2 separate regions of the Homo sapiens genome follow, and region 2 is linked to region 1. The links come from fine-mapping of genetic effects on gene expression. Tissue or cell type: thyroid. Region 1 holds a variant in brackets; the other region holds the start of a gene. All regions are shown on one strand. Distances are from middle to middle. Region 1 overlaps RYR2 (ryanodine receptor 2). Region 2 holds the start of RYR2 (ryanodine receptor 2).

Region 1 (11,801 bases):
CCGACAGATAGCCTGGGGTCTTCACTTCACTTCCCTCCCAACTATTGCCTGGCCATCCTTCCTTCCCCTCCTCCTTGCAATTTGGACCTCAAAGGTCTGGAAACCTCCCTCAAGTCCTATACTTGGTGATGACTACCTTGCTCCTCCCAATTTCCTGGATAATCTTTACAACAAACGAGTCCCCAGTTGAGTGCATGTTCAGTCATCACATTCTGCTAAAGATGTGCCTTCACTGGTATTGACTCAAGTAATGCTCCAAATAACCCTACAAGGCCAATACTACCACACATCCCATTGTACAGATTAAGCAGCAGGATCAGAGAGGTTGAGTAACTTGCCCAAGGTCAGTACACTAGTTAAAAGGTGGTAGGGCTGGGATGTGAAGCCAGGCAGTCTAGCTCCAGAGCATGGGTTTTTAGCCTCTAGGCTACAGCCCCTTCCCCCATTATTTTCCTAAATTAAATTTCTCAGTGGAGTCATGCTCTATCCCCTAGGTCTTCTTCCCTCAAGAGTATGATTTCTAAAAGGATTTCCTGGAGTGAGGTAAATGGAAGAGTAGCAGCTTTAAAATCGAAGTATTTCCAAGCTTCTGACAGGGTCCAAGCTCTAAAGTGTCTGAATTCAAATATTTTATACTGTACTCTTCCACTCTGAAATACAAACTTCTTTAATTCAGTGTTACTTGCTAAGGTGAAGATGTCATGTCCATTTCATCACCTTCAAAAGCCTTAATGTGACACAATGTCTTGTCAATAAAAATGTTATGCAAAATTTTATTTGCAAGGCTAAAATTTTAGAGAAAAGATATTACACATATCAAATTTAACAGGGTTTTCAATAAGTAGGAAGAAAAAAGGATTTGGTGGCATCTGGGCCAATCCTAGTAATATTGACCAGGCCAAGTGTGTCCTTGGGAATCCCTGGTTCTTTGACTTTTCTCTACTCTCTAATCCCCGTGAAAATGACTAACCAGAAAAAATCACTTCCATATGGTTTGATATAAACTTATACCAGTTGGATTATTATTTTTCCCTGGGACATCTATATTTTCACGAAATGAAAGTCTCTGCACCCTTTCTAAAGAAATGCCCAGGTGACCATGTACTAGTGGCACAAAGAGCTGAGAGAATAAAAGGCAAGTTGCGTGCATGTTGGAGCGACGTCATGTCAAGACCACCTGTTCTGCCGGAGTCTAAGCAGGGTCCGTGCTGAGTTCTTCATTTCCTTCACTTCAACACTTAAAGAAAAGTTCAGTGCTACAGTTTTATTCTTGTGTGATCTTTAAAAATACTGCACTCAGAGATGTTTAAATAAATGTGATCTAAGTTCATCTCTCTAACACCCAATAGGTGTGAGCCTGCTGAATTCCACCTTGTAGCTCTCTATCCCTTTGCTTGGAAAATTCTGGTTCTTATCTCTTTTCTCACAAGTGTACTATGTGGATTTTTTACACTATTTCATGGCAGTCTGTTCCTCACACATTGATGATGTACCCACTCCCTGGGCCAGGAATTGTGCAAGGAGCTGTGGATTGCAAAAACTAGTATGACATGATTTTGACCTCCAGGGAAGTGACATGCCCTTAAAGGACAATGGGACAGAGTCTTCTAAAAGAGAGGCCGGCTGGACACGATGGCTCATGCCTGTAATCTCAGTACTTTGGAGGCTGAGGCAGGTGGATCATCTGAGGTCAGGAGTTCGAGACCAGCCTGGTCAACATGGTGAAAACTCATCTCTACTAAAAATACAAAAAAATTAGCCAAGCATGGTGGCGCACACCTGTAATCCCAGCTACTCAGGGGGCTGAGGCAGGAGAATTGCTTGAACCCAGGAGGCAGAGGTTACAGTGAGCCGAGATCATGCCACTGCACCCCAGTCTGGGCGACAGAGTGAGATTCCATCTCAAAAAATAAAAATAAAAATAAAAATAAAATAAAATAAATAAAAGAGAGGCCAACAATATCCTATGGCCAGATGGAGGGGAAAAAAGCCCCCTTTCTGAATTTATGAAAACCGAACCTCAGAAACCATTTTTGGCTAAAGAGCTGGGTTTTGTTCTCAATTCCTACTGAGGATCATGTCTTGGATGCAGAAAGGAGAAGGAGCACACTGCTGGTACATGTGAACAGAGTCCCCGTTGAGGTTCCGTGAAGCTTATTTAATAAATAGTTATATGACGCCAGGGCTCTGCAAGGTAGGGCACTTAGGGATAAAAAAGCAAACAACCGAGATACAGGATTAAGGATAAATCAGCTGAATACAAGAATGACAGCAAATTACATGATGGAGCATAAACCAAATAGGAGCCAGAAACAGTTGTTATTTTAAAAGTCAGGAAGAATCATGATCCCCATTCCTAAGAGGCTTACATCCTCATGGGGAGATAAATCAAACAAAAGTGGAGCCCTAAAAACATAAAACCATAATTATTACTATATGTGGGCTGGAAAGGTGGGCCTGGATCAGAGCAAAAAAGCATCAAGTCGTTTAATCCTAGAAATTTGCCTGGAAGGGGAGAGCCATTAGCTAATTTTTTTTTTTTTTTTTTTGATGTTGTAGCTTAGAAAGAAGAGGTAGGGGGAAGTTCTCCTCCCTGCCTAAAGGGTAGCCTGGGCAAAAATTTCTTTAACAGAAAAGGTAAACAAAATAAAAATGGGAATCATGAGGCCAGCTAACTAAAGAGCAGAGAGATAAAAAGAGAGGAGGGGGCCGGGCACGGTGGCTCACGCCTGTAATCCCAGCACTCTGGGAGGCCGAGGCGGGCGGATCACCTGAGGTCAGGAGTTCGAGACCAGCCTGACCAACATGGTGAAACCCCATCTCTACTAAAATACAAAAAATTAGCCAGGCGTGGTGGTGGACGCTTGTAATCCCAGCTACTCAGGAGGCTGAGGCAGGAGAATCGCTTGAACCCGGGAAGCGGAGGTCACAGTGTGTTGAGATTGCACCGTTGCACCTAGCCTGGACAACAAAAGCAAAACTCCATCTCAAACAAACAAACAAAAGAGTAGGGGAAGTAGCAAAAACATCCAGTGATGGAGGGGGAACTTACCTACTCTCCTCTATTTGCATACTATCTCATTTAATCCTCCAACTACCCACTAGGGTGCACTCACCCACCACCCACCCCCAACCAATGACAGCTGCTGGGCATGGGCTGCCACTGGGGTGCCAAACAGACAAGGTACCTGCTTTCCAAGGGCTTACAGTGGAGTAAATTACATTTTGTCCTTCTGCCAGTTCTCTAGCTCAGAGAGGTACAATCCTCCAACTTGCCAGAGGTCCTCCCTGCACTAGAACCCTCAAGGAGCAGAATCAGGGCAGGAGCCAGACAGGTTTGTCTGACCTCCAAATCTCAGAGCTTTCTGTTACCCTTGCAGGATAGGCAAAAATGAGCAAAAACTAAAGAGAATCCCAAAGATGGCAAAGATTTCCACTGGATATTTTCTTTTGCCATTTCCATTTACTATCCTGAAGCACACTTCACACTCAGAACTTCAAATGTGCCTTTTTTTTTTTTTTTTTTTTTTAAAGAGACGGAGTCTCATTCTGTCACCCAGGCTAGAGTGCAGCGGCACGACCTCAGCTCACTGCAACCTCCGCCTCCCAGGTTCAAGCGATTCTCCTCCCACAGTCTCCTGAGTAGCTGGGACAACAGGCACCTGCCACCGCGCCCGGCTAATTTTTGTATTTTTGGTAGAGACAGGGTTTCGCCATGTTGGCCAGGCTGGTCTTGAACTCCTGACCTCAAGTGATCCACCTGCCTTGGCCTCCCAATAAGGGTATTGTGAGAAATTGGCAGGGAGGGGAAAGGAATGAATTATAATCATTTCCTCTTCTCCACCCTCTTCTACTCTTGAGGGAAAGAAGAGCAAAATGTAACTGTTGGAAGAGGCAATGGTACAAATACTCCAACAAGCACAGTGCTGTGAATGTCCTCTGAACCAAAAATGTTTCCCTTTCTTAGAGCAGCTCGATACAGCAGTGTCAACAATGTTACCAAACAGATATTCATTTACTTGGTCCAACCTCGAAGCATCCTCACAAAGGACCCAATTGCTCTTCAGAAGGATGTTGAAGCTAGAGAGAAGGAAGACCAGTGGCCCAGTACCAGAGGCTCCAAGCCTGAGACCTGGCATCGTGCTTGACCTTGAAAATGTCATTGAATTCTTGAGTCTCATTAAAGGGGGACTTCACAATTGACCTCACAGGGTTGTGGTAGAGATTAAATAACAAATACAAGCACCTTGCAGCAAAGTGGCTGGTCCCCCAGAAATATGCAAATGTTAGTTGATGCCAAATAGAATATTTCAGTTTGAATTAACCAAAGAGAATGTTTCAGTCCACAGCAGGAGGTTTCAGAGCATTGGTACCCCGAGGGAGAAATGAAGCTGAGATGACGCAGAAGAGTAGAGGAACAGTGCCTACCTGGAAGATAGCAGGTGTGCCCCTACCTGAGACAAATTTGCCAGCTTTGCCTAGAGCGAGAGTTCTCAAAGTGCAGACTCCAAACCAGAGGCATCAGCATCCCTTGGGAACTTAGGGACGTGGATGAAACTGGAAACCATCATTCTCAGCAAACTATCGAAAGGACAAAAAACCATACACCGCATGTTCTCACTCATAGGTGGGAATTGAACAATGAGAACACATGGACACAGGAAGGGGAACATCACACTTCGGGGACTGTTGTGGGATGGGGGGAGGGGGGAGGGATAGCATTAGGAGATATACCTAATGCTAAATGACGAGTTAATGGGTGCAGCACACCAGCATGACACATGTATACATATGTAACTAACCTGCACATTGTGCACATGTACCCTAAAACTTTTAAAAAAAGAAAAAAAAAATGCCCATTTTCAGGCCCCACCTCAGACCCACCTAATCAGAAACTCTGGGGCCAGAGCCCAGCAATCTGCGTTTTAACAAGCTTTCCAGGGGATTCAGATGCACACTCAAGTTTAAGAACTTGAGTAAAAATTAAGTGAGTAAAAGTCAGCAGTAGAGAAAACTTAACTCTATGGGCCTATCATTCCACAAAGAAAATTCATACCAGGATATGGCACAACCCAACATTTCCACGGTTAGAAAGTGGGGCCGGGGGATTAGAATTTCACAGCTTAGCATAGGGGGTACAACTGACAGCACCTTACTGGCCCTGTGTCTGTCTTGTGACCAAGCTGTGGCACCTGTTATTTTGGGCAGTTTTCTCGGTGCACAAAGCCAGGTCATACGCTCAGTGAACATTGCTGAACACCATGAAGGTGACATTTAAAGCAAAAAGGCCCTCACAGAGGTAATCTTCCTTGGAAAATATCAGTAGTCAGGTTGGCAATCATGTAAATTTCCGTTTCCCCTACCTATCCCAGGAAATTATTATTATTATTTTTTTTTTTGAGACGGAGTCTCGCTCTGTCGCCCAGGCTGGAGTGCAGTGTCAGCAAATATTTTTTAAATTTCTGAAATCAATCACATTGCACTGCTGCTGCAGGACACTGCAGAGAGGAGATGCTGCCCATGCACCACCCACAGGCTGCAGGGGCCTCCTCCTGCCCAGGCCCATCACCGAGGCCCTTCGGGAGATTCAGTAGCCTCTATGTGTTGGTGGTTTTAGGGATGGAAAGCATAGATAATCAGATATTGCTCTTAGATTTTCCAAAACAGACAGCTAATGTCACACACAAAAGTCAATGCAAAAAATCTTCCTTTCAAAGCAATTTTCTCTCCATGCCTGAATTTAACTGCATATTCTTTGCCAACTTAAAAAAAAAACCAGCTTTACCATCTTCTAAGATTATATTTCTCAATTTCAAAAAATATAAACTGGAAGCATTCATGGGACTTCCCTGTACATTTTTCTTTGCAACCTATGACTGTAATTATTTCAAAATAAAATACATATATTTTATATATACATATATGTATTTTACATATGTATATGTATATATGTATTTTATATATACACATTTATGTATGTATTTGTGAATATATACACAGATGGTTAGGTTTTACCCTGGTTATTCCGGTTATGTTCGGCTAGGTTAGGTTTCACACTGGTTATTCTGTTGAACACACATATACATAGACACAAAGGCAAGAATCCCAAGCCCTGACTTCAAAATTAAACCCATTTGCTCATGTTCATGTAAAGAGTGATATTGAAGTGTGCTCACAATGAAAATAAACTAGTGAAGCAGTTCCTTGTCTAATCACACACCCAGCTGCTCTTAGGAGCCAGTACCCCAAAACACAGAAGCTGAGCTTGCTCAGAAATACCA[A/C]AAGTGCAAAACTGGAACGCTGGTGGAAAGCACAGACAAGAGACAACATTGCAGGCTTCCTAAGACCCACTTCCCAGACTTTCCTGATCATGCAAATCACCTGGGGTGTGTAAAAGAGATGCTTTTTCCCATTCCTGATTGCCAGGAGGAGGGACTCTCCTCCACCCTGCAGCCTCCACGCCCCTACACACTCCCGGCCTCTCTCAGCCCTCTCTACTTCCTATGTGCCTCAGGAGAAATAATTTCGACTGATAGATTTAAGAGAATCCCAGAGCTCTGCTCAGCGCAGCTCAGCCCTGTTCTCTGTTTTGGTTGTGAGCTTCTGCAGGCTGCAAGGTTCTGTTGCTGCTCCAGCGGCCCTGCTCCCAGGGAGGCCTCTGCGGTACATCAGCCTCATTCCAGGAATTCAATTAGCAGGCCTACTGGGCTAGCTGACTTAACGCAGCATCCTCCAGCCAAGCCTCTATGAGGACATTTTGACCTCTCATTTGTCCTAGTCATTGTTTTTGTCTCAATTCATTCAGAAGCTGGGCAGGAAAGGGGAGTATCATATACTGGGCCCCTCCGATCCCTCCAACAGGTGTAGCCTCACAACCCAGATTCCCAGGCCCCTCTCCTGGAGGTTCTGGGTCGCTAAGTCTAAATCAGTGCTTGATGCTTAGGCAAGGAGCCCAGGAGATTCTTATTCCCTGGAAAATTTGGGAAATGCTACCCTAAAGAATATTCTAGGATCATGTTCCCTGTTATGCAAAGTTGAGGCATACATGAACCAGCTTCCACAGAGGTTTCCAGCACCACCAGGAAGGTTAGCTCTAATTACTCCCACAGGGGACATGAGAGAAACCGTGAGCTCAGGACCGGAACCTTTTTACCAGGAGGTAAAACAGCCCCACAAAGGAGTAGAGGCTTTTCAACAATGCCTCAAGAAAAATAAAGGAAGATGAGGGCATGTGAAGCCCAGGGGAACCCCAGGGAAGGAGGGAGGAGCCCAGCCTGTGCAGGGGAGGTGGATGCCACACGTGTGACGTGCTTCTGGAAAGAACTAAGGCTGCAGGACACCGTGAATCTGGAAGGGAATGCCCCAAAGCATCTTCCACCTCAAGTGTCCAGACGTTTCCTACACCTTTGTGACCACACAAGATCCTGAGTGGACTCAGAGGCATCTTCCACGGGAGATGGAAGTCACCAACTCTGAGCCAGGAATCGGAAGCTTCACATCTATTACCTATAATAGAGCAAGGTAAATGTAAAAGCAACTTGGTAAAACTAAAGCTGCAGAGAAGTGAGAACCTACAATGTTTCCTTTTTTTTTTTTTTTTTGAGATGGAGTCTCACTCTGTCTCCCAGGCTGGAGTGCAGTGGTGCGATCTCGGCTCACTGCAAACTCCACCTCTGGGTTCACGCCATTCTCCTGCCTCAGCCTCCTGAGTAGCTGGGACTACAGGCGCCCGCCACCACGTCCAGCTAATTTTTTGTATTTTTAGTAGAGACGGGGTTTCACCGTGTTAGCCAGGATGGTCTCGATCTCCTGACCTCGTGATCCGCCCGCCTCAGCCTCCCAGAACCTACAATGTTTTCTATTAAGCAAGAACTCCTAAGTGGGGCTCATAGTACAGCATCTATAACTTCTAAGTTAAGATATATAAAGTATATGTTGTCCATTGATGTTTTGATGTCATTGTTTAATGTGTTGGTCTATTTTATTTTAGTAAACATAATAATGCTTATAAGACTTTTATTGGTTCATCCTTCTTTAGCCCTCCAGCCTTTTATTTCCCCCATATGGCCTTAGATTTCTTAATCCAAATTAACCTCCCTTTGTGTTACAGACTAAATGTTTATGTCCCTCAGTCCCCCCAAAATCATATGTTAAAATCTTAACCCCAAATGTAATGGCATTAGGAGGCGGGGCCTTGGGAGGTGATTACTGCCCTTTACAAAGGGACTTCAGAGAGCTCCTTTGTCCCTTCTACACGTGACAACACAGCAAGAAGACAGCCGCCTATGAACCAGGAAGCGAGCCTTCACCAGACACCAAATTGCTGGCACTCTGATCTTGGGCTTCCCAGCATCCAGAACTGTGAGGAATAATTTCTGTGGTTTCTAAGCCTCCCAGTCCATGGCATTTTGTTATAGCAGCCCAAATGGACGAAGGTGCCATGTCTGAAAAAGGGACACTGTATACACATCACACTGAGAAATCCATTTTTTCAAGGACAGTTTCAGCCCTCTCTCCAGAAGTCCACACTAACCACCTCCCAGCAGCTCCACGACTCTCTGACAGACAGCGAAAACCCCCACATTTCCAGAATGAAACTCTTGATCTTCACTCTTTCCAGGACCGCTCCATCTTAGCTGGTGAAACATCATCTGTCTGCCAGAAACCTTGGGATGATCCGGACTCCCCTTCTCTCTCTCAACCCTCATCAGAACCATGAGGAAATCCTCCTGGCTCTATGTCCAAAAAAATATCCAGGGTCCTGCTGCTCGGTGCCACCTCCCCCTGCTGCCACCGTGCTGCAAGCCACATCAGAGCCTGTCTGCAGCCCAGCGGGAGCTGGTGCAGGGGAGCTGTTCTCCCTGCCCACCCCTGTTTACCAGGAACATCTATTCTCAACACAGTGGCCAGACGGGTCTTTTCAGAATGAAAATCAGAACGAGCTACCCCTCAGCTCAAAGGATTGCAATGACTCCCATATGGCTAAAAGTAATAGCAAGAGCCCAGTCCTCTCAACAGCCCTCAAGGCCTCCTCCACCTGCCCGGCCCACACCCGCAGCCCCTCTGGCCTCCCCACCACTGTGCCCCAGTCCTGCTGCACACTCTGTTCCTTAGAGTCTCCAGGCACACTCCCACGTTGGTGCTGGCACTGGCTGCTCCCTCTGCCTGGAAGCCCATGAACTAACTCCCCTGCTATCTTCAAGCTGCTCAACTGCTACTATCTCAAAGAGACCCACTCTGATAACTATGTTTTTTGTTTGGATTTTTTTTTTTTTTTTTTTTTTTTGAGACAGAGTCTCGCTTTGTCGCCCAGGCTGGAGTGCAGTGGCGCAATCTCAGCTCACTGCAACCTCCCACCTCCTGGGTTCAAGCGATTCTTGTGCTTCAGCCTCCCAAGTAGTTGGGACTACAGCTGCCAATTTTTGTATTGCTGGCTAATTTCTGTATTTTTAGTAGGGACAGTGTTTTACCATGTTGACCAGGCTGGTCTCGATCTCCTGACCTCAAGTGATCTGTCCGTCTCAGCCTCCCGAAGTGCTGGGATTACAGGCATGAGCCACTGTGCCCAGCTAATTTTTGTATTTTTAGTAGAGACAGGTTTTCACCATGTTGGCCAGGCTGGTCTCAAACTCCTGACTTCAAGTGACCTGCCCGTCTTGGCCTTCCAAAATGCTGGGATTACAGGTGTAAGCCATTGTGCCCAGCCTGATAACTACATTTAAAATCACCACTCATTCCCTCCATCACCCCCTTATCCTGTTCTACTCTCATTTTCCCCCAGAGTACTTACGATCTTCTAACATGCAATGCAATTCATTTAATATGATTGTTTTTCAACAGGTCTTCCCCACCAGACTCTCAGCCCCATGAGGGCTGAGTATTTGTTTAACAGCATATTTCGGGCACCTAGAAGAGTGTGTGGAATACAGTCGGTGCTCAATAAAATTTCAGCCTTCCCCAAACGTAAGGTGAACAAAGCAGCTGGGCTAGCTCAGGGTTCAACCAGCCGTGTTTGCCGGCACTGAGACTCATGTCAGGAAGGGGGAGGACTCACAAGATGTGAGCAGCACCCCTTATTCGTGAGGTTCTAGAAGGCCTTTCTGCACTGAAATTTCTCCCTGACAGTCTGCCAGAAAGCCTGAAATTCCCAGCATTACCATCAGACCGTTGAGAAGACCTCGAGGGAGAAGGGAATGTGGCAAACTCATCACAGCCATTAAGCACCAGGCACAGATCAGCCAGCTTGAATCTCCACTGCACGATAGTCAACAGGTACAGAGGGCCTGCCACGCACAGGCACTGTGCTTGCAAACTCGGTACAAAGATGAGGAGGAGACTCCTTTCCTATCCGTAGGGAGATGGGGGTCTAGGCGGGGAGAGAAGTACATATACAAGTAAGTACAGTGCCCTGGGTAAAACCTGAAAGAAAGGTTTACACAAGGCCCTAGAGGGTGACCAGGACCCAGTAACAGCTGGGAGAGTCACAAAGGCTATCAGAAAGGAGAAGTGACTGACAAACCAGTAGAATTTGCCGGGCAAAGAAAAAAAGGCAAGGGAACAGCACCTGCAAAGCCACATAATTGTAAAAGGCACAGCACATTTAAGCGATGGTGTTGGTCAACTCACCATGCCGGAGCATCACACAGAAGCAGCAGTGCTAGACAAGGAGACAGGGAAAGGTGCTGAGCTGGCCTGGTCTTACAGGTGGGAGGGGACAGCAGCGGGTGAGGGCAGAGCAGAGTTTTTTGGAAGATGGTCCTAAGGGCAGGCAGGAGGAGGTGCTGAACAAAGGAAACGTCCTTGGCAGGGCCCTAATGAAAGGGACAGCTGGAGCCTTGTCCCTACTGAGGGATGCTTGCTTCCAAGTACCAAATGTAATGCAAAGGGAACGCCGGCCAAATCCCACAGGTCCAGGCCACAGACAGGCACGTTCCATGGATGATGAATTACTGCCGCTCCCTCCAGGTTCTACCTACAAAACGAAAAGGTGGGAGATGGATGGGCGAGAGGAAAGCCCCTTGCTGGTCCAGAGGAGAAATGATGAGGAACCGATGCATTTGCAGTGAAGGCGGGTTTTGGCCACAAGCAACTAAATATCACGTGAGGAACTTCAGCCCGGGATGACACAGACTGATAAAGGCATGGTGACCACAGAGAGACAACCAGACAAAAGAGACAGAATTCTCGGTTGCAAATGACAGAAACCAACCAAGTTGGAATGCTAGCTAACAGGTGTTCAAAGAATTGACAGGGGCTGGCCGCGGTGGCTCACGCCTGTAATCCCAACACTTTGGGAGGCCGAGGCGGGTGGACCACCTGAAGTCAGGAGTTCGAGACCAGCCTGGCCAACATGGTAAAACCCTGTCTCTACTAAAAATACTAAAATTAGCCAGATGTGGTGGCACACACCTGTAATCCCAGCTACTCGGGAGGCTGAGGCAGGAGAATCACTTGAATCTGGCAGGTGGATGTTGCAGTGAGCCGAGATCATGGCATTGCACTCCAGCCTGGGCAACAAGAGTGAAATTCTGTCTCAAAAAAACAGGGACACTGGACAATGTAGCCTGGAAAATGGGCAGAAACCAAAGGAAGGTGGTGGTCAGAAGGCCCACGGCCCAGACACACACAGAAGCAGTTACGATAATTCAGCACCAACACCTGAGGTAGCCCTAACCTGTCCCCTGTTCTTCACGTTGCTTACTTCAGGTTCAAAGTACCAGGCTACAGGAGGATTGGTTGTGCTAAGGTCAAGTTGCATGCCCTGGGCAGCAGGATATGGAGAAAGCAGGTACTGACCTTTT
Region 2 (11,801 bases), 68 kb after region 1:
AGCAGTGGGAGAAGACCACTTCTGCAGGAGGGGAGCAACCAAATAAGGTATCCGGGTCAAAGACAGACATTTTAAGATGGGAGAAATTAACAGGCTTCAAGATAAACCAGAAGGAGTAAGTGGATAGGGAGGCAAAAAAAAAAAAAAAAAGGCTAGAAAGGATGGATTCCAATCTTGGCTTCCAGGACCAAGATTCAGGCCATGTGAGGGACTGTAACATTAGAAAAGACAAAAGAAACCTCCTTTTCACTGGCTGGAAGGACAAGAGGACAGATTTGGAGACAGAACTCTATGAAGGTCAAGTTAAGGATAAAATGGAAAAGTGGGTTTAAATCTACTCTATAAAGAATGATGTGCTGGTAAACCTCCTTTCTGGAAATTCTTCACAGATTTTCATATACTCTCCATTACTAAATGCCACTAACTTGGAGTGTGACACTGGGCCAAGTCATTTGGCTTTCTGAGCTTTTGTTTCCTTATCTGCAATATCAGAGAGGCATGGGGTGGACAGGGTAATGTTTTCTAAAGGCCTCTTCCTACCCTAATGTTTTGGAGTTTGTTTATGCATTTTTCCTTCTGATTGCTCCATGCCATCCTCTATATCTATTCTTTGCAATTACAGCTGCAAACCACTTCCCTACTTATTTGGAATACTTCCTTAACATGCTATGCATACAGACGGTGTTCAACAAATGTTTTCTGAATTAATCTAATTCCCACAATGTCAGAGTTTCAGGAAAAATGTGTGCTTCATCACCTCTCCCTCTCTCCCGAAAGCTATCTAAAGAAGCACAGTCACCCAGTGCTGCTGGAGTCCTTTCTTGGGTAATTCAGCCGTGATAAAAACACTTATCTGAAGCCAAAGTACAAATACAATTGAATGTCAAATAAATTAGTGCCCTAAGCGTTTTAGATCTTGCCCTTCCTGCCAATGTGTACATGCTAATTTCTAAGTTAAAATAAAATAAGTCTGATGATGTAAGCCTGGGTGGGCTTTCCATCAGTTCCTTGGGAAAATACCATAGTGCATATCTATCTAAAGCTCCTCGTAGCTTCATTATGAAGGGAGCAAAAAGTGCGAATTTCCACTGCTCATTCCATCTTTTCCTTTGTACTCTGTGACATTCCTACAGCTGAGAAAACTGACTTGGTATTCTTTTGCTATAAACCTAAAACATACTTGAACAGCAGATAAAGAAGCCTTTCTCTCCTGGAAAGAACACTATTAGCCTAAGATTTGAATTTTAGTCCTCGTTCTGCACTGCTGAGTACTGACTTCATACCATTAACCTTCCTGGACCTCTACAAACTAGGGCTAAGTATTCCCATCCAAACTACTATGCAGTGTTGTACACCAGCATCTATACTGCATAATTGTCACCATTTGTAGATGAGTATATTTAAAGATGCTTCTTGTCATTGTGGAACAAGATGTATGAACACTGAGAAGAAATCTATAATGAAATACTTCATTCTGCAAAAGAAGACAGGAGGAAGACCGTAAGCATTCCTATCAGGATCATTCTTACAGCCAGGACTAAGCTTTAAGTCTCAATCTATGGGTAAATACAAAACTACATGACACAGTACACCACAAGGGTAACTCAACTGTGCTTAGACAAATGAAAGAAAGACAAAGTACTCAAAAAAAAAAAAAAAAAAAAAAAAAACCTTGACCAAGGTCATTTTATACCATGGTTTTCCTAAAGTCAGAGGAATATCTTCTATAACATTCTGTATGATTGTTGGAAAAAAAAAAAAAAAGAGGACCATAACGAAAAAGATGCGTGTTTTTAAATGCCAAATGACAGTTTGATGCTACATTGGTAAGTTAATAAAATCTTTAAAATAAAACACACATTCCAAATCATGGATATGTTTGGATATGACAGTGAATGAATCCATTACAAGCTGACAGCTTATTTTATGATAGGATTTTTCTCTCATAAAATAAGTGTCCCAGCATATCCAGAGTTTACAAAAACATATTTTCAATCTCTCTCAAAGATAAACAGACCCAAGTGGGCAGGTTTCCAACAGATGGGGGAGCCACTGAATCAATGATCATTCATCTACATAACTATTTGGAAGGAATGTGAGCCAACTCGACAAGCAGCAGCAAATGGAACAGAGATGCCAGAGAGACAGGTACAAGCTAAACAGTGACAAACCCCTTTGCAAATGAGGAATTAATTTACAGCAGCATACATAACTCACAGATACAGCCCATTAAAGATTTCACCTCTACTTCCCTTAACAGTGATCTCACACCTCTTCTAAAAAAAGAAAAGCAAAAAAGCTTTCTGTGGACAGTGGTCAAAAAGATGCCTCAATGTGCTGGGGTGCTGAATACAAATCCAATAGACAATGACCTGCTCAAGATAATAATCCAGATGTTCTAATCAGGACATATGAAATGTCCCATCAAATTCACAATTACGGTGTCTTAATGACTGTTTTTGTTTTTCTATGCAAAACAGCTTCATCCATCACTATCAAGAATTCTTCCATCTACAACTGTTTTATCAAGATGTACAGATTCCTAATACTCCTTGGGCTATTTGCTTTAAAAAAAAAAAAAAAGAAGAAGAAGAAGAAATAACTCATATTGACAAGCTTGCACATGACAGAGAAATAAATGCCCTCAGAAAAAAAAGAAGCGACTTCAATGTGGGAACTATACTACAGTCTCCCCATTATTCACCCCATCAGCATTTCTGAACCACCAACATTCTCAGGTTAAGAGAAAAAAAAGGGGGGTGGGGGAGGGAAGGATGGAGGGTAATGGGTGGAGAAGCCGGTAAAGGATTTGAGAATTTCCATATGAAAATTGGAAAATTGTGAGGAAAGGCATGTTTTCCTTTTAGATGTTAATGCTATACCAAAAAAAAAAAAATCCCCCTGCTCCACTGTGTCACCTCCTTCAAGGTCATTTGTCGTCAGCACAGCAACCTACGGATGTTTTATTAAAAGAAAAATCCCAGCCTGGGACTGCCAGATCTCTACCCAGGACCCACTTATCAAAGGTGCTGCTCTAGCTGACAGGCAGCTGCTGAGTGGCACAGAGTTGACATTACTTGATATGTGCAGAACCTCATCAGCCAGCACGTTCCCTCGGTCCCCATTAAGCATTCTGATAACACCACCTCCATGAGCTCGGCTTAACAGTTAAGCCCGCAGGAAGCCCTTGAGTGCATGAAGCCTACCAAAATGTCCCAGCTAGTTTTAACCCCACAGAGTTTGATACGAATTGATTGAAAAATTATACAGCAACCGTATTTGTCCACCTGAATAAAATAGTCCTTAGTTTTGAGAAAAATCTAATGTGGTGTTAATTACTTAAAAAAAAAAAAACCCTTATAGTCTATTTTCTATGAAAAAGACAACTGTATTACTAGCAGGTTTATACACCGTGACCAAGGTATTAGTGAAGAGGCTCTTCCAAGCCCGGTCTTGGGCCAACAGTACTTCAAAAAGCATATGCAATGGTGCATAACCTGCAGCTATTAGACTGGATTACTATTAGGTTGTCATCTGATGTGGACCCTGGGTTTTTATCCTTCCCAAAGCTTTCTCCCAGTCCGTTTAATGCACAAAAGAGAAAGAGACAGTCGTTTACAACGTTCCTTTGCAAATTCGCTGTTTTCATATGTTTAGTACCCAAATACATCAAGACTATTTTCACACCTAAAAGTTAATATTCCAAAATTCCACCGTATCTACGATTTTCTGTGATTATAGGTAACTGTAACCGGGAAGTGGTTTTGTTTGTTTGTTTGTTTTGTTTTGTTTTGTTTTTGTACTGCTGAGGAAAGAAGTACCAGCAGAAGCTGCAGTTCTAGGTTGGGGAAGTCTGGGGAATCCTGCAAGGGAACATCCTTCGGGAAGGAGGACAGAAGTGGAGAAGGAACGACTGAAAGGATGCTAACTAGGTTATTATTAGCAGGAAGTTAGGGCATTTTCTTTTCTGGAGAGGCTCTCCAGTCCCAGCTTGGAGGTGTGCAATGCCTCAGCCTGGGAAGTATCTGCAGTGTTCGAACAAATGAGAGAAAGGAAGGAGCAGTGCCAAGAGGTACTTAAGGAGAAAGAATTGTATTAGTGTGGAGCCAACCTTTCCCGGGCAGCCACCCTGCCCTTACACTTACACACACACACTTTGCTTCACTTGGCATGCAATAAGCCAGCATTTAGAGAACGACACGTTCACGATGTTCTCCCCACCACCACCCGCGCGCGCGCACACACGCAAACACACGCTCGCTTCCCATGCCTTCCACGCTTTGCAAGCGGTCACAGCACCACCACGGATGGCACCAGCCCCGGGAACCGCGGGGACCACGGAGGCGACTCCTCCTCCGCTTTCGCAGCACCTTGACTTGGGGGAAACCTCCGCGCAGCGTCCTGCACCATCACCCCCGCCCCCGGTCAGCTGCGCCGCACGCTACACGGAGTAAGCGAACCAACGTCTTCGCTCCGTGACAACGCGCGGGTCCAGCCCGAAAGCCCAAGAAACCTCCCGGCGGCGGTATTCCCAGAAACAGCCCGAGTTCCCGCCGCTCCCCGCGCCCCCACGGGCCACCCTGCTCTGCACCCTGCCCCCGGCCGCCCGGGAGGTCCCAGCCGTGCCACCAGGCAGGCCGGACCGGCCGTCCCCTCCTCTCCCGGTTCCCGCAGCTCCGACGCTCCTGTCCCCGGTGCCCCGGGTCCGAGCCCGGGCGCCTGCCGCCGGCTAGCCGCGCTCCATCCTCTAGCTTTCCACACGCGCGCACAGACACGCGCCCTTGCCTTCCCTCGCCCCAACACGCACACCTGCACACACTTGGTGATGCCCGCTCCTCCCGCATCCTCAGGGGGCACCCCCTCGCCCCGCCCGCGAGTCCCCGCTGCCCGCTGTCACTCTGCCCGGACCCCGCTAGTGGATGCCCTGACGCCCCCTTCCCCTGACAGCACACGCGACGCACGGCGCTTACAGTTCGCAGGAACTGGATCTCGTCTTCGCCCTCGCCCCCATCGGCCATGGTTCCGCGCCTCCTCGCCGGGGCCGGCTCCCGAGCCCCGCGGAGCTCGGCGGCGGCGGCGGCCCCTGGCGCTGCCTTCTGCTTCTGCTGCCGGGAGCCGGGGGCTGGAGGGGGCCGCGCTGCCGGGTGCCGAGCGCCGGGCGGTCCCCGCCTGCAGAGCGGAGGAGGAGGCGCGGACGCTCGGGCGCGGGTGGTCGAGGCGCGGGGCCTCCCTGCTCCGCACTGTGCGGGAGGAGGGCGGCCCGGGCCCGGAGGACGCGGGGAAGCAGCCCCGCAGCCCAGCCGCGCTCGCTGCCTGCAGCCGGCGGTCCGCTCGGCCCCGGCTCCTCCGAGCAAGTGCGCGGAGCCAGCTGAGCCGGGGTTAGTGCAGCGGTGGGGGTGGGGTGTGGGGGCGGGCGGGGAGGAGCTCGGCGGCTCCCCGCTGCTGCAGGTAATCCGCAGCCCGCTCCTCCGGGCCGCCAAACCCGAGGCCCAGCGCCACTTACTGGCTGCGCTGGGAATCGGGGCCGGAGCGCACCCGGCGAGCGCACAGCCTCCTACCTGCGCCCCGCTGGGGTCCCTGGGCTCATTCCCCTGCCCCTTCCGAGCTTAAAACCGCCGGCACGACGCCCCTTCCTCCTGGACTGGGCTAGGGCACTAACTTCCACGGCACTTCGGATCGCACGGAAGAATGATATCTTTCACCTGGGCGCACGGGGTGGCTAATCTCCAAGTAGAGATTACGCAACACCTGGTATTTTAAACGTGGATTACCTCTATTCATGATCAAATGGGAATTCTTCAAGATCTAGTTTTAGTGTACCATGCTTTTCGCAGATAATCGATGCAAAGTGCACGGTTTTGGTGCACAGAACTTTAACATTCAACAAATATACAGTGAGCGCCTATGCCAGACAATGTGGTACAAGACAGACCCAGAAGTGTGTAGTCTGTATTCGAAGTGCAAGCCTTAATTCAACAAGGAATTGCGGTAAAGTATGGGATACTATCTATAAGTCTGAACCACTGGATGGGTCTAAAGTCAGACTGTGCTACCCATTATCCTTGCTGAGAGAAGAAATTCGAGCATTCCACCGCAGATAGTAATATCTTGCTCTCGCAATCCTCCATGCAATAGTCTACCAAATGCCTACTTAACAAACGGCTATGACTAAGAAAATACAGGGTCTGAGACAATTTGGACAAGAAAGCAATTTGTCTCTTGTTCCTAGTCCACAGCGCTTTCATTTATCGTACTTAAAATAAGTATGTGCAAAGTAAAGTTTTCAAATGTCAGTACTACGGAGATGCAGACATTGTAAAACAAGGATTTTTGCGTCCGTTTACCTACATCTTACATTCTGCGGCATCTAACTCATTATTAAAATCGACCACTGAGTTCTATACAGTTTATATTTTATTTTTAGCATTCATTAACTTTGTACTTACTGGGGTAGGTTTGTAAATTTCCAGGAGAATGACAATATGTGTATAAATACTCGCTGTCCGTGGTAGAACTAGTAATGTTCTGCCCTATCTCATGGAAGTATACCAGTCACCTTACCTAAAAACTTGACCTATCCCTGTAGCCATGACGACTAACCAACTCTTAAACCGTTATTATTTATGTGAATGTTTACTCTTACGAGTCTCTAAAGGAACAACCAGTGAGCTCCCAAAAAGTCGGGTAAGAGTCCTCCATGAGCAATGACTATATTCTGAAATTGGCTCCTGATTTAATGTTAAATGATTTGATCTTCCAAATTTAGAACGTATCAAATTGACGTTTTAAACTATTTTATTCAGAACTATGCAGAGACAGGTTTCTTAATTACTCCATTCTACCCAGATGGTAGGTAAAATAATATAAAAACGCTTACCACGTCTTCATTTTGGCATTTTAACTAGGCTGTAAACTGTTCTAGCAAGAGTTATGGTTATTATTTCTTTAGTTCTCTCAATGTAAGTGGAATAATGCTAAAAGGCCTAGACACTCGATGTTTCTTATTCACCCCATACAGTCTTCAACAGCAAGTAGACATAGAGCAGAGACTATTTATAAAACACACCGTGTATGTGGACTTTAAAACACAAAAATACAAAACTATGAGGTTTATAGATCTCTAGTCTGTTCTAAAAGTATAAAAATATGTTTGAGAATGATATACAACATTTATTTTTAAAAAGAAAACCAAAGCAAATATAACAAGTGTTTTAATACTGGTGATGGGCATATTGGTGGAATATTATTTTTGGTACTCTGATATTCTGTTATATTTCATAATTACATAACAAAATAATTTTTACAAGAAAGCAACTTCAGTGAAAGCTATGGAAACTTTTTACTTATAGCTTTTTTAAAAAAAATTTAACCCTTTTGGATAATTTAGTTATAATTCCCTAGTTTCTTCTTCTGGTGGACAATTGTAGTAAGAATTCCAGTGCAGAGATCATAGGATACTAACTAACCTCAATTTTAAGTGTACTTGAGAAAAAATACATAAAATTTGGATACAGCTTAAAGTTTATGTTTACTGTATTTAATTCTTATTGTAGACTCAGACTAAAAGAAATTAACAAGTAGACCTTTTTCTAGGCACAAAACTATAGTTCATTAAATAGAAAAAAATTATTTACAATTTTCATTAGAAAATAGTATTTGATATCTATATATTTTGTAATTTTTATTAAAATATTTATTGGCTGGGCATAATGGCTCACACTTGTTATCCCAGTGCTTTGAGAGGCCAAAACAGGAGGATTGCTTGAAGCCAGGAGTTCAAAACGAGCCTGGGCAATGGAGACCTCATCTCTACCAAAAAAAAAAAAAATTTTAATTAGCTAGGCATGGTGGCACAAACCTGTAGTTCTAGCTACTGGGAGGTTGAGGTAGGAGGATTGCTTGAGCCCAGGAGTTTGAGGCTGCAGTGAGCTATGATCAAGCCACTACCCTAGTAACAGAGCAAGACCTGATCTCAAAAAAAAAAAAAAATTCTCTTTTTCTAAATTCGTGTTATGTATAATAGCTTATTTTGCTTTTTATTATCTTAATATTGCTTTATTATAATATAATCTTTATATTCAATAGATACTACATTTTAAATCTTTATTAATCATAAAATTATTAATAAAAAGTTTAGAGGATGACATTTCTATGTTTCTTAGTCCAAATTTGGGAAGTATTCTTCTTTATGACTAATTTTATATTCTGCAAGAGAGGGAAAAATTATATTTTTGCTTTTTTAATTAAGAGTTTTTCTGCAGTCATCTAATTAAGAATGGGCCATCGTAGCCCACTTATTCACTTGGCAGGATGCTAGACAGCCTTAAAGAAGAAAAAAATTAGGACAAATGTAAGCTTTTTCATTTTGACTTACAATTTACTAAGCTCCCCAATGATGTACATGAGCTTAAAAAATTAACTTCTTCCTCAAGGTTTCTACGGAAACTCAGCAAAATACTCAATGTTATCATTTTAATTCAGCTCCTTTCAATTAAGATTACATACATTAAAGGCTTTATTACTGACTTGAAAGCCTCTGGAATTGTCATCGAATCATTATAAAATTAGGATTAGAGAGCCTCTAACGTCCTGAGATTTAGCCCATTTCTTGTTAACTCAGATTTCCTGTTTCAAAATCTCTAAGGAACATTTCATACCTATCTTCTTATCCCACTTCAGAACTCAACAGACCAACATTTTACAAAATTTCCATTTTATTTACATCCTTATTGCATGTGTTCTAAAATACTATAATTCTTATGAGCACCTGTCCTAGAAATAAATCCCTGGGAAATTCACCACAAGCCAGTCCTCAGGTCACATGGCCTGAATCTCTGCATTAATGCAAGATGGCCAGAAATTACATTACGAATGATGACGATGGTGATGAAACTTCATTTATTGAGCATTTACTATGCTCCGAGCACTTGCATTTTATTTTTTCTTTTCGTCTTCGCAGCAATATCATTTTTGAAAAACAGGAAAGAAGACTTAAAGAAGTTAAGTAGCTTGGCCAAGAGTATGCAGCTGCTGAGTTTTGACACAGGGGTCCGAGGACTTATACTCCTCCCCTACCTCCATCCCAAAGCGGAAAGCACAAAAAAGAGTCTAGACTAGCATGAACTATAAAAGGCTCTGGCAGCCCCGGGAGATCTGTCCCTGGTTTCAGGCCAAAGCAGGTCCTGCTAGCTCTTGGAATGCCAAGTAAGTTCTGGAAAGAGACAGAGATTACTATGTGTTCAGAAATAATATCCAATTTGTGCCTTTCTCCGCAGTTTGGATTCTTAGGGTAAATCAGTTTTTCAAGACTTGAAGGTTATTCACCACTATCGTATTAGTTCCTTTCCAAATTATGAAGCCCCAAACTACAATTAGTATTCTGATTTCCAGGGTCAGGACTGAACTACATGCAGATAGAAAAAGTACACATGATCTACCTCTTGGCATCGGAGGAGCCCTGGACATCACAGAGAAGGATGTCCCCACCCGACGAAAAGTTTGCTTATTACTGTAGTCCCCTCTTACCCACAGCTTTGCTTTCTGCAGTTCCAGTTACTCAAAGTTCCAAAATTTAAAATGGAAAATTCTAGAAATAAACAATTCCTACATTTTTAATTGTGTGCCAGTTTGAGTAGCGTGATGAAACCTTGTACCATCTCACTCTGTCCCATTCGGGACATGAATCATCCCTTTGTCCAGCGCATCCACTCTTCTGTACTCCCCACCGTTAGCCAGTAGCTGTTTCAATAATCAAATCGACTATCGCGGTATCATGGTGCCTGTGTTCATGTATCCCTTATTTTACTTCATAATGACTCCAAAGTGCATGAGTAGTGATGCTGGCATATTGTTATTATTGTTCTATTTTATTACTAGTTATCATCGTTCATCTCTTACTGTGCCTCTTATAAACTAAACTTAAACCTAGGTTTGTATGTATAGGGGAAAAACACAGCATACATAGGGTTCAGTCCTATCCATGGTTTTGAGCGTCCCCTGGGGTCTTGGAATGTATCCCCTACAGATCAGGAGGTATGGGTTCCTAAGGAAATGTGGGTTCCCCAGCCTCATTTCCAACTCAAATTGCCTAGTGGCTTCCCAAGTAGGTCATTCTGACTGTCACGTGTCTCTGAAGGCAGATCTTCCTCCTGATTTGCCTATTTCTGTTGTACTACAGCTCGAATCCAAACTCTGATCACCATTTTTGATTCCTCTCTCACCTTTCCCACTGAACATCAGTGTCTTTTTATAAGTAAAAGGCATTTTCCTGATTCTTGTCTTTATATCCCAGAGTAATTTCACTAACATCATCACTAATCTTCCTGTTTCTTATGCTTTTCCAGTGCAAATCATCTTCCTGACTCCCACCAGCACCACCCCCTATAATAATGTTTTCATCTTGTCACTTCCTTGCCCAATAAGAACTAGAACCATTGAAAGGTGGCCCCCAGATGCCTCCAGGTTATGTTCAAACCCCTCAGCTTGGCTTTGGAGACTCCCCACGATATAGCCTTAAACATACCTTTTCAATATTTCTTTCCTAGTATTCCCATTTTGCCTCCCAACCAGACTACTGTTCTGCAGATTAAAAAGCTACTCAGCCGTGCCTCTTCTTTTGCTATTTCTTTAGCCATCCAGGGCCACAAAATCCTGCTGAAATCCACTCCATGCTTCAAGGACTAGTTCAAAGCCCCCTTCTGGGCTTTGATTACTCTGGCCAGAGATTGTATCTCCCTCCTGTGAACCACAGCCCTTGATCCTGTATTGCCCAGGCCTGTAGGTGTATGTTTAAGGGTAATGTCCCTCAAATGCAATAACTACTGCATAGAGGCAGAGAAAATGTGTCTACTTTTTTATTATACTTCTTTTCTTTATGGGTAATAATTAAGATCCTTTCTGTTGATGGTCATGAACTGCTTGTTTACCATTTTGTAGATACCTTTCTACTTTCACTTTCCTTTTAAGAAAATTCCATTTTGAAACACCTTTCTTCTTTTTATCCCTTCCTCTATGTGGAGTTCATTCTTTAACTGCAGGGTGCTAACCACTTTGCTGTGTTCAGTAACACAAAAGTAACCTCCAAACGCTTGTGTCCATAGAGTTTGTCCCAGCATGAGACCCATCTCTAATGTCTTCTAGGTATTCACAGAACAACAGGACATGAGCAGGTTCTTTGAACCCTTTATTCGTTCGTTCATTCGACAAACGTTTATTGCGTGTGTCCCAGGCTTTGTCCTAGCAAATAAAGCACTGGCCCTATCTTCATGGGGCTTTTATTCTAGGGGAGGAGCTAGATACCAACAAGTAAATGTATATGTCAGGTGCATTGAGTGCTATCAAAAAATACAAAGCAGAAGCCAGGAGGAGTAGCTCGGGCCTGTAGCCCCAGCTACTTGGGAGGCAGAGGTGGAGGTGGTAGGATTGCTTGAGTTCAAGTCCAGCCTGGGCAACATAGTAAGACCCTGTCAAGAAAGAAAAGAAAAGAAAAGAGAGAGAAAGAGAGAGAGAAGGAAGGAAGGAAAGAGGGAAGGAAGGAAGGAAGGAAGGAAGGAAGGAAGGAAGGAAGGAAGGAAAGAGGGAAGGAAGGAAGGAAGGAAAGAGGGAAGGAAGGAAGGAAGGAGCAAGCAGGATAAAGGTTAACAGAGGGGCCAGTTTTGTAGAGAAAATGGTCAGGGAAGACATCCCTGATGAAGTCACATGGCAACAGTAGCTTGAATCAAGCCAGGGAATGAGCCTTGTGGCTATCTAAGGGAAGAGCACTCCACGCAGAGGGATTGGTATGTGCGAAGGCTTGGAGTTGA

Evidence for each region.
Region 2: RYR2 starts here. The variant in region 1 is fine-mapped to the expression of RYR2 in thyroid (GTEx, PIP 0.93).

Annotation. Positions count from the first base shown.
Region 1 is chr1:237,103,320-237,115,120 of GRCh38, reverse strand. The region is part of intron 1 of RYR2 (ryanodine receptor 2); the gene reads right to left. Among named protein-coding and RNA genes, the nearest start is that of RYR2, 67 kb to the right of the region's middle. The variant A/C (reference allele first, on the strand shown) is at 6,282.
Region 2 is chr1:237,035,739-237,047,539 of GRCh38, reverse strand. RYR2 (ryanodine receptor 2) reads right to left here and starts at 5,356. Exons shown (of 105, transcript NM_001035.3): 1 at 4,971-5,356. The coding sequence starts at 5,018.